3 linked regions of the Homo sapiens genome follow. The protein of the gene in region 1 purifies or fractionates together with the protein of each later gene. This does not show direct contact. Each region holds a gene or a part of one and is shown in the gene's direction. Other genes may lie near its edges.

What was found.
Region 2: the proteins of ACBD7 (region 1) and SUGP1 purify together in Homo sapiens (affinity purification with mass spectrometry; 2 studies listed by BioGRID and IntAct, with this or other methods). This does not show direct contact.
Region 3: the proteins of ACBD7 (region 1) and TBC1D24 purify together in Homo sapiens (affinity purification with mass spectrometry; 2 studies listed by BioGRID and IntAct, with this or other methods). This does not show direct contact.

What each region holds. Positions count from the first base shown.
Region 1 is NC_000010.11:15,085,938-15,090,036, reverse strand, and holds the start of ACBD7 (acyl-CoA-binding domain-containing protein 7), read left to right. Parts: upstream 1-1,260; 5' UTR 1,261-1,308; coding exon 1,309-1,320; intron 1,321-4,099. UniProt on the Homo sapiens protein: Binds medium- and long-chain acyl-CoA esters.
Region 2 is NC_000019.10:19,313,927-19,317,568, reverse strand, and holds part of SUGP1 (SURP and G-patch domain-containing protein 1), read left to right. Parts: intron 1-975; coding exon 976-1,147; intron 1,148-3,642.
Region 3 is NC_000016.10:2,473,635-2,478,068, forward strand, and holds the start of TBC1D24 (TBC1 domain family member 24), read left to right. Parts: upstream 1-1,492; 5' UTR 1,493-1,536; intron 1,537-4,434. Other genes in the region: NTN3 (netrin-3 precursor), read left to right, coding at 122-471. UniProt on the Homo sapiens protein: May act as a GTPase-activating protein for Rab family protein(s). Involved in neuronal projections development, probably through a negative modulation of ARF6 function. Involved in the regulation of synaptic vesicle trafficking.

The sequences.
Region 1 (4,099 bases):
AAACAAGTTAAGCTGATTATAGCATGTGTCCAGAATTTAGGTGGTTTTGCTTTATAAAGAGAAGAGGTGCAAACCACAGGCCACTTTCTCTCATGATAAACAGCGCCTGGAGGCAGCGTGGAGGAGACACATCCATCATCCACGTTTCTAGGAATAATGGACATGAGAGAAGTATGTATAAAGAAGGAATCCTGTGCTTCGGGAAGCCGAGGTGGGAGGATCGCTTGAGGTCAGGAGTTCGAGACCAGCCTGGGCAACCTAGTGAGACGCCCCCCCCACCACCTCTCTTAAAAAAAAAAAAAACACATATATATATATTTTTTAATTTGCACTTTTAATTTATAAAATTTTTAATTTTTAACATTTTAAATATATATAAATTTATATATAATTTTTAGAGAAAAAATATATAATATATATATACCTAGGAAGACCCCAACCTCTGAAAAAAATTTATATATATAAATTTTTAATTTATAAAATTTTAAATACATATTTACTTATTCTTTTTTTTTTTTGAGACGGAGTTTCACACTTGTTGCCCAGGCTGGAGTGCAATGGTGCAATCTTGGCTCACCACAGCCTCCACCTCCCGGGTTCAAGCGATTCTCCTGCCTCAGCCTCCCGAGTAACTGGGATTACAGGTATGCGCCACCACACCCGGCTAATTTTGTATTTTTAGTAGAGACAGGGTTTCTCCATGTTGGTCAGGCTGGTCTCGAACTCCCGACCTCAGGTGATCTGCCGGCCTCAGCCTCCCAAAGTGTTGGGATTACAGGCGTGAGGCACCGCGCCCGGCCAATACATATTTACATGTATAAATTTTTTTAAATTGAAAAAATTACATATGTATTTTAAGAGAGTTGGGGCGGGTCTCTCTAGATAAATATATATCTCTCTCTCTATATATATATATATTTTTTCTCTCTCTCTCTCTCTCTCTGTCTCTCTCCTTCTTTCTTTCTTTCGAAGGCATTCCAGGGGAGGCCTGTGCCCTACGGAGACCTCTCTGGGTTTCCTGCAAAGAACCGCTTGAGAAAGAATAGAAGAGAGAGCCAAGAGCGGAGAGAAACTCATTTAAATTCTCCTGTCTTCGCCTTTCCATTTGCAGCCTGGGGAACCCGGCGTGCAGTACCGCTCACCGCCCAGCCTCGCCCCCGCGCCCGCGACCAATGGGAGGCGGCCGGGCCGGGAGCGCGGCCAATGGCAGCGGCCGGAGGAGACGCGGCCGTTTAAGAAGCGGTGGGTGCGAGAGGGGGCAGAGCACCGGACGACAACAGCAGCAGCAACAACGCGGCAGCCGCCACCATGGCCCTGCAGGTACCCGGGGCGCGGGGAGGCCACGCGGGAGGGGCGCTCCGCGAGGGGAGTGCTTAAGTGGGGCTCCGGGTGGGCTTGGCGCCCCTGGGAGCGGTCGGCGGTGACCCGGGGGACACGCCCACTCCTTCCCCAGCGCCCCAGATGGCAGTGTAGACCGCACCTGTGCCTGCTGACGGCGAGCCAGGGCTCCCAGGGCAACCCTTCCGGACCCCAGGGGCCGGGTGAGCGGAAAAGCAGGCAAGGCAGGAGCGCCGGGGAGCACGGAGCGGGCCTCCTCCTCTCCGTCTCCGAGAGGGAGTCGAGATCCCCCGCTCCCGCCCCTTCGCTCGTTGGGACCTCCAGGACCTCTCTTAGTGTCATACTGAGCAGAAGAGATCTGTGAGGCTCCAATTTAAAAATACTGTTTTATAGGTATGTGAAAAAAATTGTTAAGGGTGGAAAACTTTGGAAAAGACAACAAATATAAAGTAATAATTACTGATAATAATCCAATGATAATTCCTTCACCCAGGTGATAATCACTGCTACATGCTAGGGTAATTCCTAGTATGTCCTAGTATGTTATTTTCCATGTGTGTATGTGTGTGGCATATATCTACACACATACCTATGATGTTATTGTGTATATAGTTTTATTCCTACACGTAAAACAGTAATATGAGCATTTTCTCATTATTAAATATTCTAAAATGTAATTTTATTTTTCTTTTTTGAGACAGAGTCTCATTCTGTTGCCCAGGTTGAGGCGCAGTTGGTGCGATCTCTGCTCACTGCAACCTCTGCTCACTGCAACCTCCACCTCCCAGGTGTAAGCGATTCTCATGTCTCAGCCTCCGCAGTAGCTGGGGTTACAGGTGCACGCCACCACGCCCGGCTGATTTTTGTAATTTTTTTTTTTTTTTTTTAAGATGGAGTCTCATTCTGTCACCCAGGCTGTTTGAGATGGAGTCTCACTCTGTCACCCAGGCTGGAGTGCAGTGGTGCAATCTCAGCTCACCGCAACCTCCGCCTCCCAAGTTCAAGTGATTCTCCTATCTCAGCCTCCCAAATAGCTGGGATTATAGGCGTGCGCCGCCACTCCTGGCTATTTTTCTCTATTTTTAGTGGAGATGGGGTTTCGCTGTGTTGGCCAGACTGGTCTCCAACTCCTGACCTCAAGTGATCCACCCGCCTTGGACACCCAAAGTGCTGGGATTTCAGGCGTGAGCCACCACGCCCGGCCTCTAAAATGTAATCTTTTACATGCACAAAATTTCATAGAACGTGGCTCACTTCTTTAACCATTTCAGTCAGGCAAGACGTTATCCTGCGTAAAGTTGTAATACATACTTCAGGGCCATCTGGGTTCAAATGTGTGCCTCACTTCTACTTAGCCTGTGACATAGTTAACCTCTCCGTGCCTCAGTTTCTTTATCTAAAAATGCAGGAGAGATACATTAAATGAGTTATATGTATAAAGCATTTAAAACAATGTTTGGCATGTGGTAGAAGTCCAATAAGGATAAGCTTGTGGTGGAACATTTAGTTTGTTTGTTTTGAGACAGGGTCTCACTCTGTCACCCAGGCTGGAGTGCAATGGCATGATCTCAGCTCACTGCAGCCTTGACCTCCTGGGCTCAAGTGATCCTGCCACTTCAGCCTCCCAAGTAGCTTGGACCACAGGCACCTGCCACCACACCTGGCTATTTTTTTTTTTTTTTTTTGAGATGGAGTTTCACTCTTGTTGCCCAGGCTGGAGTGCAATGGCGCAATCTTGGCTCACCGCAACCTCCACCTTCTGGGTTCAACCGATTCTCCTGCCTCAGCCTCCTGAGTAGCTGGGATTACAGGCATGTGCCACCACACCCAATTAATTTTGTATTTTTAGTAGAGATGGAGTTTCTCCATGTTGGTCAGGGTGGTCTCAAACTCCTGACCTCAGGTGATCTGCCCGCCTCAGCCTCCCAAAGTGCTTGGATTACAGGTGTGAGCCACCATGCCAGGCTTTCCTTTTTTGTATCTTTTGTAGACATTTGGTTTTGCTGTGTTGCCCAGGCTGATCTCCAACTCCTGAGCTCAAGCGATCCACCCGCCTTGGCCTCCCAAAGTGCTGGGATTACAGGCATGAGCCACCTTGCCTGGCTCAAATATTCTTGTGCGTGACTTATGTGTTTATACTGAACTCTCTCCAAAATGATCAAAATGTTCTTTCTAAAATTTCCTGAAAGATCTGAAAGTTTCCTTTTTAGCTTAGTACTTTGGTTTTCTGTTGTTGTTTGCTTTTAAAATACTTGCAACGAGGAATTAAGAGTTGAGGAACATCACAGAAAAGCAGTATGCTAAGAAGTATTAACATCGACCCATGATATTATCTACTAATAATGCATTTGCGTGTCAACAATATTGGGGGAAGGTAACTTTTTTTTTTTTTGAGATGGTGTCTTGCTCTGTTGCCCAGGCTGGAGTGCAATGGCGTGATCTTGACTCACTGCAACCTCCACCTCCCAGATTCAAGCAATTCTCCTGCCTTAGCCTCCTAGTAGCTGGAATTACAGGTGCCTGCCACCACGGCCGGCTAATTTTTGTATTTTTAGTAGAGACAGGGTTTCACCATGTTGGCCAGGCTGGTCTTGAACTCCTGACCTCAAGTGATCTGCCTGCCTCAGCCTCCCAAAGTGCTGGGATTACAGATGTGAGCTACCACGCCCAGCTGAAAGTAACTTTTAAAAATGACAACTAATAACTGGCTGACATATTGAAATCTCTTCTGTCTTTATTACCTCACTGGCATGTGCGGGGA
Region 2 (3,642 bases), on another chromosome or scaffold:
TCCAGCCTGAGAAACAGAGCCAGACCCTGTCTCAAAAAAAGACCCAATGGATCTTGCATTCTTCATCTTAGTGCTTCTCCATCACTCCCCAAAGCCCTTATAATAAAGCACAGATGCTCTGACATGCCTCACCTCTGCCTGTCCCTGGAGCAGGCCCCTCTGACACTGGGCACTTGCTGCTCCTTGGATGTACCAGGCTTCTTCCTGCCTTGAGCTTTCACATCTGCTCCTTCTTCTGCCCAGATCATCTCCCATTTGGCTTTTCATGACGCTGGCTTCTTATTTGTTTTTTCTGGTTTAAATGTCTCCTCTTCTAGTGTTTATTTTCTGCCTGTCCTACCTGCATATGTACTCTCCTGTTACTTTTTCACCCTTTTTTGGTTTTCAGCAGAGCTCTTACCACATTGTGCACTTACTTTTTTTTTTTTTTTTGAGACAGAGTCTTGCTCTGTTGCCAGGCTGGAGTGCAGTGGCACCATCTCGGCTCACTGCAACCTTCACCTCCCTGGTTCAAGCAATTTTCCTGCCTCGGCCTCCCTAGTAGCTGGGATTACAGGCACATGCCACCATACCCAGCTAATTTTTGTATTTTTAGTAGAGACAGGGTTTCACCACGTTGGCCAGGCTGGTCTCGATCTCCTGACCTCAAGTGATCCGCCTGCCCCTGCCTCCCAAAGTGCTGGGATTGCAGGCATGAGCCTCTGCACCAGCCCGAAAGTTACTTTTTTATTATGGGTCTATTGTCTTCCCAGCCTGAAGCGAGTCCCACGTGGGCAGAGACCTGTGTTCTCTTGCATAGCACGTAGTAAGTACAGGGTATGGTATGCAGCAGGCACTCTGTAAGTGTTTGCTGAATAAATGAACTAATAGACATATAAATTAATCTGAACATCAGTTGCTCTCTGGCCTGTCACAGCTTCTTGGGGTGTTTGTGGAGTAAGGGTGATTTCCGACGTACTCCTTTTCCCTCCCCAGGAAAGGCTAACCGGTGGTTTGGGGTTGCTCCCCCTAAATCTGGAAAAATGAACATGAACATCCTTCACCAGGAAGAGCTCATCGCTCAGAAGAAACGGGAAATTGAAGCCAAAATGGAACAGAAAGCCAAGCAGAATCAGGTGGCCAGCCCTCAGCCCCCACATCCTGGCGAGTAAGTGCCTGCTGGGGCCTGGATGGGGCCTGGATGTGAGTCTTTGAGGGTCACCAGCACAGGGTTTGGCTTGTGAGGGCAGTCAGCATGTGCTTGCACCCAGCCATAGCCTGATGATCCAAGGAATGACCCAGATGCCCTTGGGAGGCTCACTGTGGCAAGAGAGAAATGAGGGGTATGTGGAAGCCCAGAGGACAGCCTGCCAACTCATCCACTCAGCAGTTATTTACTGCCAGCCAGCTGTGGTGCAGAGGGAAGGGGTATAACAGAGTAAAAATCTCTGCCTTGAGTTCAGGTGTGCTGCCTCACACCTGTAATCTCAGCCCTTTGGGAGGCTGAGACAGAGGATCACTAGAGGCCAGGAGTTTGAGACCAGCTTTGCCAACATAGTGAAACCCCATCTCTACTAAAAAATACAAAAAATTAGCTGGGCATTGTGGCACGTGCCTGTAGTCCCAGCTGCTCAGGAGGCTGAGGCACGAGAATCTCTGGGATCTGGCAGGCAAAGGTTGCAGTGAGTTGAGATCGTGCCACTGTACACTACCCTGGGCCATAGAGTGAGACTCTGTCTCAAAAAAAAAACAAAAAAAAACCTCTGCCCTTATGGGGTGACAAACTACTGGCAAAGGGATGCAGGTGCCGCCCCAGAGCTCCTGGAAGATAACAAAGGCAGTGTGTTCCCAGGCCCCGTGGCCACAGTAAGGCCACAGAGCTTTGCATCCTGAAAGCCCAGGTGGAGCTGGCCCACTGAGGAAGCAGAGAAAGGCCTGCCCAGCAGAGGGCAGGAAGGGGAGAGAGCCCATATGTGGAGGGCCAGCCTGAGCTGCTGTACCAAAGGGGCTGTCCCTTAGTGGATGGCAGGTGGATGATAGCTCAGCAAGGGTTTCCACTTGCCTGTCCTGAGAAACACTGAGGGCACCAAGGGTTTTGATCAAGGGGTGATGTTGTGATGAGGGTGACCAGATCCAAGCTTTTCAGGCTGGAGATTGATAATCTGAGAGGCAGGCCCCTTCCTCTGGGGTCTGGAGTGTAGAGTGTGTTAACCTTCCCCAAGGCCTTGTTCCAGCTCCAGCTTTTCCTTTTTTTTTTTCTTTGAGACAGGGTTTTGCTCTGTCACCCAGGCCGGAGTGCAGTGGTGGGATCATGGCTCACCGAAGCCTTGAGCTCTTGGGCTTTAGCAGTTCTCTTGCCTCAGCCTCCCAAGTAGCTGGGACCACAGGCACGTGCCACCATGCCTGGCTAATTTTTTTCTATTTTTGTAGAGATGAGGTCTTGTTATGTTGCCCAGGTTGGTCCCGAACTCCTAGACTCAAGTGATCCTCCCACCTTGGCCTCCCAAAGGGATTACAGGTGTGAGCCACTGCACCCAGCAGCGTTTGCCTTTTCTTCTTTCTTTTTCTTTTTTTGTTGCCTAGGCTAGAGTGCAGTGGCACGATCTCAGCTCACCACAACCTCTGCCTCCAAGTTTCAAGCGATTCTCCTGCCTCAGCCTCCCAAGTAGCTGGGATTACAGGCATGCGCTGCCACGCCCAGCCAATTTTGTATTTTTAGTAGAGGCGGGGTTTCTCCTTGTTGGTCAGGCTGGTCTCAAACTCCTGACCTCAGGTGATCCGCCCCTCTCAGTCTCCCAGAGTGTTGGGATTACAGGCGTGAGCCACTGCACCCGGCCAAGAACCAGCATTTTTATCTCCCAGTATTTGTTACCAGTGGTTTTCAGGTGGGAGCCGTTCGCTGTACTCTGCAGCCTGAATGTGATTTCTTGTCTTTCCTTGTCCCTACCTCTTCCTGGTCCCTCCTGAGTGAAGTGCTCAGGGTGTGAGTATGGGGGCAGGCCCAGGAACTGAGGGGTGCCCAGAATGTCCTGGTTGTTTAGTGTCAACATTGAACCTTCTTTTTCATATAAAATTACTTCTACTCCTTCTTTTTTTAAACTTTAAAGGTAATTCATGTACATGGTAGGAAATCCAGGAAGTAGAAGAGGGGTAAACAAAAAACCAAAGTCACTCATAACTCTGCAACACAGAGACAAGCACTGGTTGAGTGTTGAGGTGTTTTTCTGTTTTTTTTAATTTTATTTAATTAATTAATTTATTTATTTTTGAGACGAGTCTTGCTCTGTCACACAGGCTGGAGTGTAGTGGTGCCATCTCGGCTCACTACAACCTCCGCCTGTTGGATTCAGGAGATTCTCCTGCTCAGCCTCTCGAGTAGCTGGGATTACCAGTGTGCGCCACGATGCCCGGCTATTTATTTATTTATTTATTTATTTATTTATTTTATTTTTTGAGACAGAGTCTCACTCAGCCGCCCAGGCTGGAGTGCAGTGGTGTGATCTTGGCTCACTGCGACCTCCGCCTCTTGGGCTCAAGTGATTCTCCTGCTCAGCCTCCCGAGTAGCTGGGATTACAGGAACCCACCATCGTGCCCGGCTAATTTTTGTATTTTAGTAGAGATGGGGTTTCATCATGTTGGCCAGGCTGGTCTTTAACTCCTGG
Region 3 (4,434 bases), on another chromosome or scaffold:
TCCACGGGCAGCGACCCCGCCCCTTCAGCCCCCACTGCCCTCCTGGTGTCCTCCCCGTGCCTCCCCCTACCGCGGGCAGGCCGCCCCTTCCTGACCCCGCCCCCTCTCGCTCTCCCCGCAGCGGTGCAGGTGGCGGTGGGTGCGCGCGGCGAGGCGCGCGGCGCGTGGACACGCTTCCCGGTGGCGGTGCTCGCCGTGTTCCGGAGCGGAGAGGAGCGCGCGCGGCGCGGGAGTAGCGCGCTGTGGGTGCCCGCCGGGGATGCGGCCTGCGGCTGCCCGCGCCTGCTCCCCGGCCGCCGCTACCTCCTGCTGGGGGGCGGGCCTGGAGCCGCGGCTGGGGGCGCGGGGGGCCGGGGGCCCGGGCTCATCGCCGCCCGCGGAAGCCTCGTGCTACCCTGGAGGGACGCGTGGACGCGGCGCCTGCGGAGGCTGCAGCGACGCGAACGGCGGGGGCGCTGCAGCGCCGCCTGAGCCCGCCGGCTGGGCAGGGCGGCCGCTGCTCCCACATCTAGGCGCACGTTCACCCTGTGCCTTCGCCTGCCAAGGAGTCCTTGCTCGCGTCGCGCGTGTCGCCACCTGGGCCGCCGCCCCGTCCCCGCCGGCAGCTCCCTCGGTACCTCCCGTCTGGCCCTGGGGGGATGTGACCGGCGCAGCGACAGCCCGCCCCGCACAGAGGCAGATGATATGGCACACCCGGAGGACCCCATGGTCTCCCGCCCTCTGGCTGTCGGCCCTGTCCCAGGGGCACTGGGATACCCGGAAGGCTGTGAATCCTTCGTGATGCCGGGCCCTCTCGGGGATCTCAGATCATCCCCGGGGCCGCTGTGATGCACCCCCACCTGTGCGGCGACCCGCCAGGGAGCGCACTGACCTCCCCAAAGACTGTGGCCACCGCAGGCGCCTTGGACCCCCATGGGGGGACAGGGCGTCCCCTGCCTCCTGCAGCCCCACGAGGGCGGCGGCCTTGGCCCCTGCGGGCTGGGCGTCCGCGTCCGGGCGCCCCGCGGCGTCTGCTGCCGGGTCCCGTAACTTTCTTGGCCGCCTGTGTCCCCGTCTGCCGGCTCCGTCCGGCCGTCCCTCTCTCTGCCGCGTCTCTGACCCTCGGCGCCACAGCTCCTCAGCTCAGGGCCCGTCCCAGAACCTCCTTCCAGCCCTTCTCCCCCGACTCGGGAAGGGACGTCGTGCCCACGCGGTTCCGGATCCACGCGTGACCCGGCCGGACCGCGACTCCGACAGGCGGCTGTCCGGGCCCCCGATGCCCTCGGCAGGGCCGTGCCACCCCCCGCCCCCCTTGGCTTGTCCCCCCGGGACCGCACTGCCGTTGCCTCCTCTCCGCACGGGACCGGTTCCCGGCCGGCCCCAGCTTCCGCCGCTGCGGCCGCCGACCGTCAGCGCGCATGCCCAGAGCCGGGCAGGCCGGAGCCCCGCGGGCTCTCCGGGGTGGGCACAGGGCGACAGCTCGGCGGGGGCGGGGCCGAGCACGCGCGTGCGCAGAAAGGCCGGCGCGGCAGGCTGAGGAGAAAGCGGCGCGCGGAGGTGGGTGCGCTCGGGGCGTGCGGGGGGCGCGCGGCGGGGTGGCGGGTGGCGGGGCCGGGTCCCCGCTGTCACCGCGGTCGGCGCGTGCTGGGGGCGGGAGCGTGGGGGCCGGGCTGCGGGCCCCATTCGAGGCGGGGATCCCCGGCCACGCGCGGGTTGGGGGCTCCAGAGCCCGGCACCGCCCGGCGCTGCAGCTGCGGCTTGGCCTACGGGAGGGGGCGCAGGAGCGGGACCCCCTGGGCGCGAGGCCCGATCCCCGCCCGGTCGCTGGCCCGCGGCCCGGCCCAGGGCATGGTGTCGTCTGGAAGAGTGACTGTGTCACTGTTTCCTTGGGGCGCTTTCCGTCTCCGCAGGGTCGGAAATCCTCTTGGGGGCTCGGTGAGATTGCAACAGATTCTGATACGCCCTGCCCTGTGGACCTGCAGCGGCCCCGGGCCCCGCCCCGCCCCGCCCAGGGATGACACACGCCCCCACCGACCACCCGCTTGGGGGTCCGCCAGCCCCCGGCCCTGTCCAGTGGGGGGCCCCTCTGGGTGCGCCGTGCCAGGCGGCCGCTGTCCTTCGGGCCCTGGGAGGTGGAAGCCAGGGACTCCCAGCCCTGAGCCAGCACAGCGGAGGGGAGAGCCGGCCCCACCTGGGCTGGGCTGCACCTGTTCCCGCCCCCTCCAGGCGGGAGTCCCCGCGGCCTGGCCACAGGCCTTCTTTGATGGCCGTGCCCCGCAGGGAAACGCGCTGTGGCCCCCGGGTTACTGCTTGCGGGGGTGATATTAAAGGTCAAAGGTTGTCTAAAAGCCACCTGGGTGGTGTGGAGGTGCAGGTGGGCTGTTAGGTTGGTGGCTGTGGTTGTGAAGCCGATGTCACTGTCTTTACCCAGCAGCTTATTCCAGAAAGGGGGCGTCAGCCTGCCCTTCCAGTGCCGATAGAAGCACTAGCGGGTGATTTTTCCCTGTTTTGCTGTGTTTGCTCTGGAGTCACCAGGTGACTTCCAGGCAGTGTGCAGAAGGAACCGTCCCATTATTTGGCACGTGGGCCGTTTCCTCCACCCGAGGTCCAGGGCTCCGTCTTCACAGTCTGTCCTCAGCACACAGTAGGCACCTGTAGATGGCACACGTGGCGTTTCCTCCGCCCGAGGGCCAGGGCTCTGTCTTCAGCACACAGTAGGCACCTGTAAATGTTTGCTCAGTTGCGGCGAAGACAAGCAGTCAGGTTCTTTTCATTTTAAGGAACACACACTGGGAAAAAAAACCAATCCAGATTAGAGAAGATCAGAAAATCTTACGAAGATTTTACAGTTACTGTTCCTAGCCTGTGGCGTGACCCCTGCGTGCACCGCCTTTTATTCTGAGGGTTGATCCTCATCTAATCTGAACACTCAGATAGAGGCTTTACATGGAGGACTTATTGGGGAGTGCTTGCTCTACTTAGAAGCCTGTCTTTCCCTGTGAAGAGGGCGGGAGCCACGCTGTTCATCTTTGCTTCCCCACAGCCTGGCCAGGGCCGGACCAGAGGTTTTCTCTACATGATGGTTGAAGTGGATCAAGGTCCTTTTGTCGGAGTGATAGATGTCAACTATTGCAGTGGCTTTCCACTGGGTTGAGGGTGACCTTCCGAGATGCAGAAGTAATCTAGGCAAGGTTTTCATAACAACAATAAATTTGGCCACCCAGGGTCTGTGAAGTCACCTGTAGGGTAGCCTTACTAGCTCTCGCTGACCACACCTGCCAGGAGTGTCCAGCAGGCTCGAGTGACCTTGGGCATGCAGTGTTGCTCTTAATTATCTACAGATTGAGCCAAGCTCAGAAAACATATTAAATGTTTGCCTTTAGATGGTTTCTGGTTTAAAGTACATAAGGACAATGAAGCAGGTTACAAAAAAAGCACTTAACATTTACCCTGTTCAATGTTTTACCTGTCTGAGCATACCTTTTCTGTTATGACAACTCTGTAAATGGAAGAAAGAAGTCCTTTTCAACTCAAAGCAGCAATTTCAGTGGCTGTTTCAAACATTGCCTTTCAATTGGAGATAAAATCAAAGAAACAAAACCTCAGGCTTTTTACTGAGGACCAACTTGAATTCATTATTCAATGATTTTCTGTATCCTTTCAACATGTGTTTGTTAAGCGAGGTGCGGTGGCTCACGCCTGCAATCCCAACACTTTGGGAGGCTGAGGTGGAAGGATCGCATGAGCCCAGGAGTTCAAGACCACCTTGGGCAACATAGGGAGGTCTCGTCTCTATAAAAAATTAGCCAAGTATGGTGGCATGTGCCTGTGGTCCCAGCTACTTGGGAAGCTGAGGCAGAAGGATCACTTGAGCCTGGGAGCTCAAGACTGCAGTGAGCTGTGATTGTGCCACTGCACTCAAGCCAGGGCAACAGAGTGAGACCCTGTCTCTGAAAAACAAAACAATAAAAATGCATTTATTGAATTCACACTTCATAGGAGGCACCATGCCGTGTGTTCTGTGGATTTGGTGTTAAGACTTGGTCTCTGCCCTTGAGCTTATAGTGCAGTGAGGAGACAGGAGAATAAACACATGGTAGAAGCTCCCACAGAGGTGGACAGAGCCTTCTGTGGGCGCAAAGGCGTGGCATCCAGCTGGATTGTGGTGGGGGTGGGGCTCTGAGATGGACTTGAGCTTCATTTTGAAGGATGATCAGGACCGGCAAGAACAAGTGAGGGAAAGTGCCTTCCCCCGAAGGGACAGTGGATATAAAGTGACAGGCGTGGTTCCTGCCCACCAGCTCTTGGGAGAAGGGCAGTGGTGGCCCCAGGGTAGATGGGGTGAAGTGAGTGAGCTAGGCTGACAGCAGACTGGGAAAAGCCTTGAGTTCCACCTGGGAGTTTGAATTCACCCTGAGTGGCATGAAGCCTCTGAAGATCTTGGGTTTGTGAGTG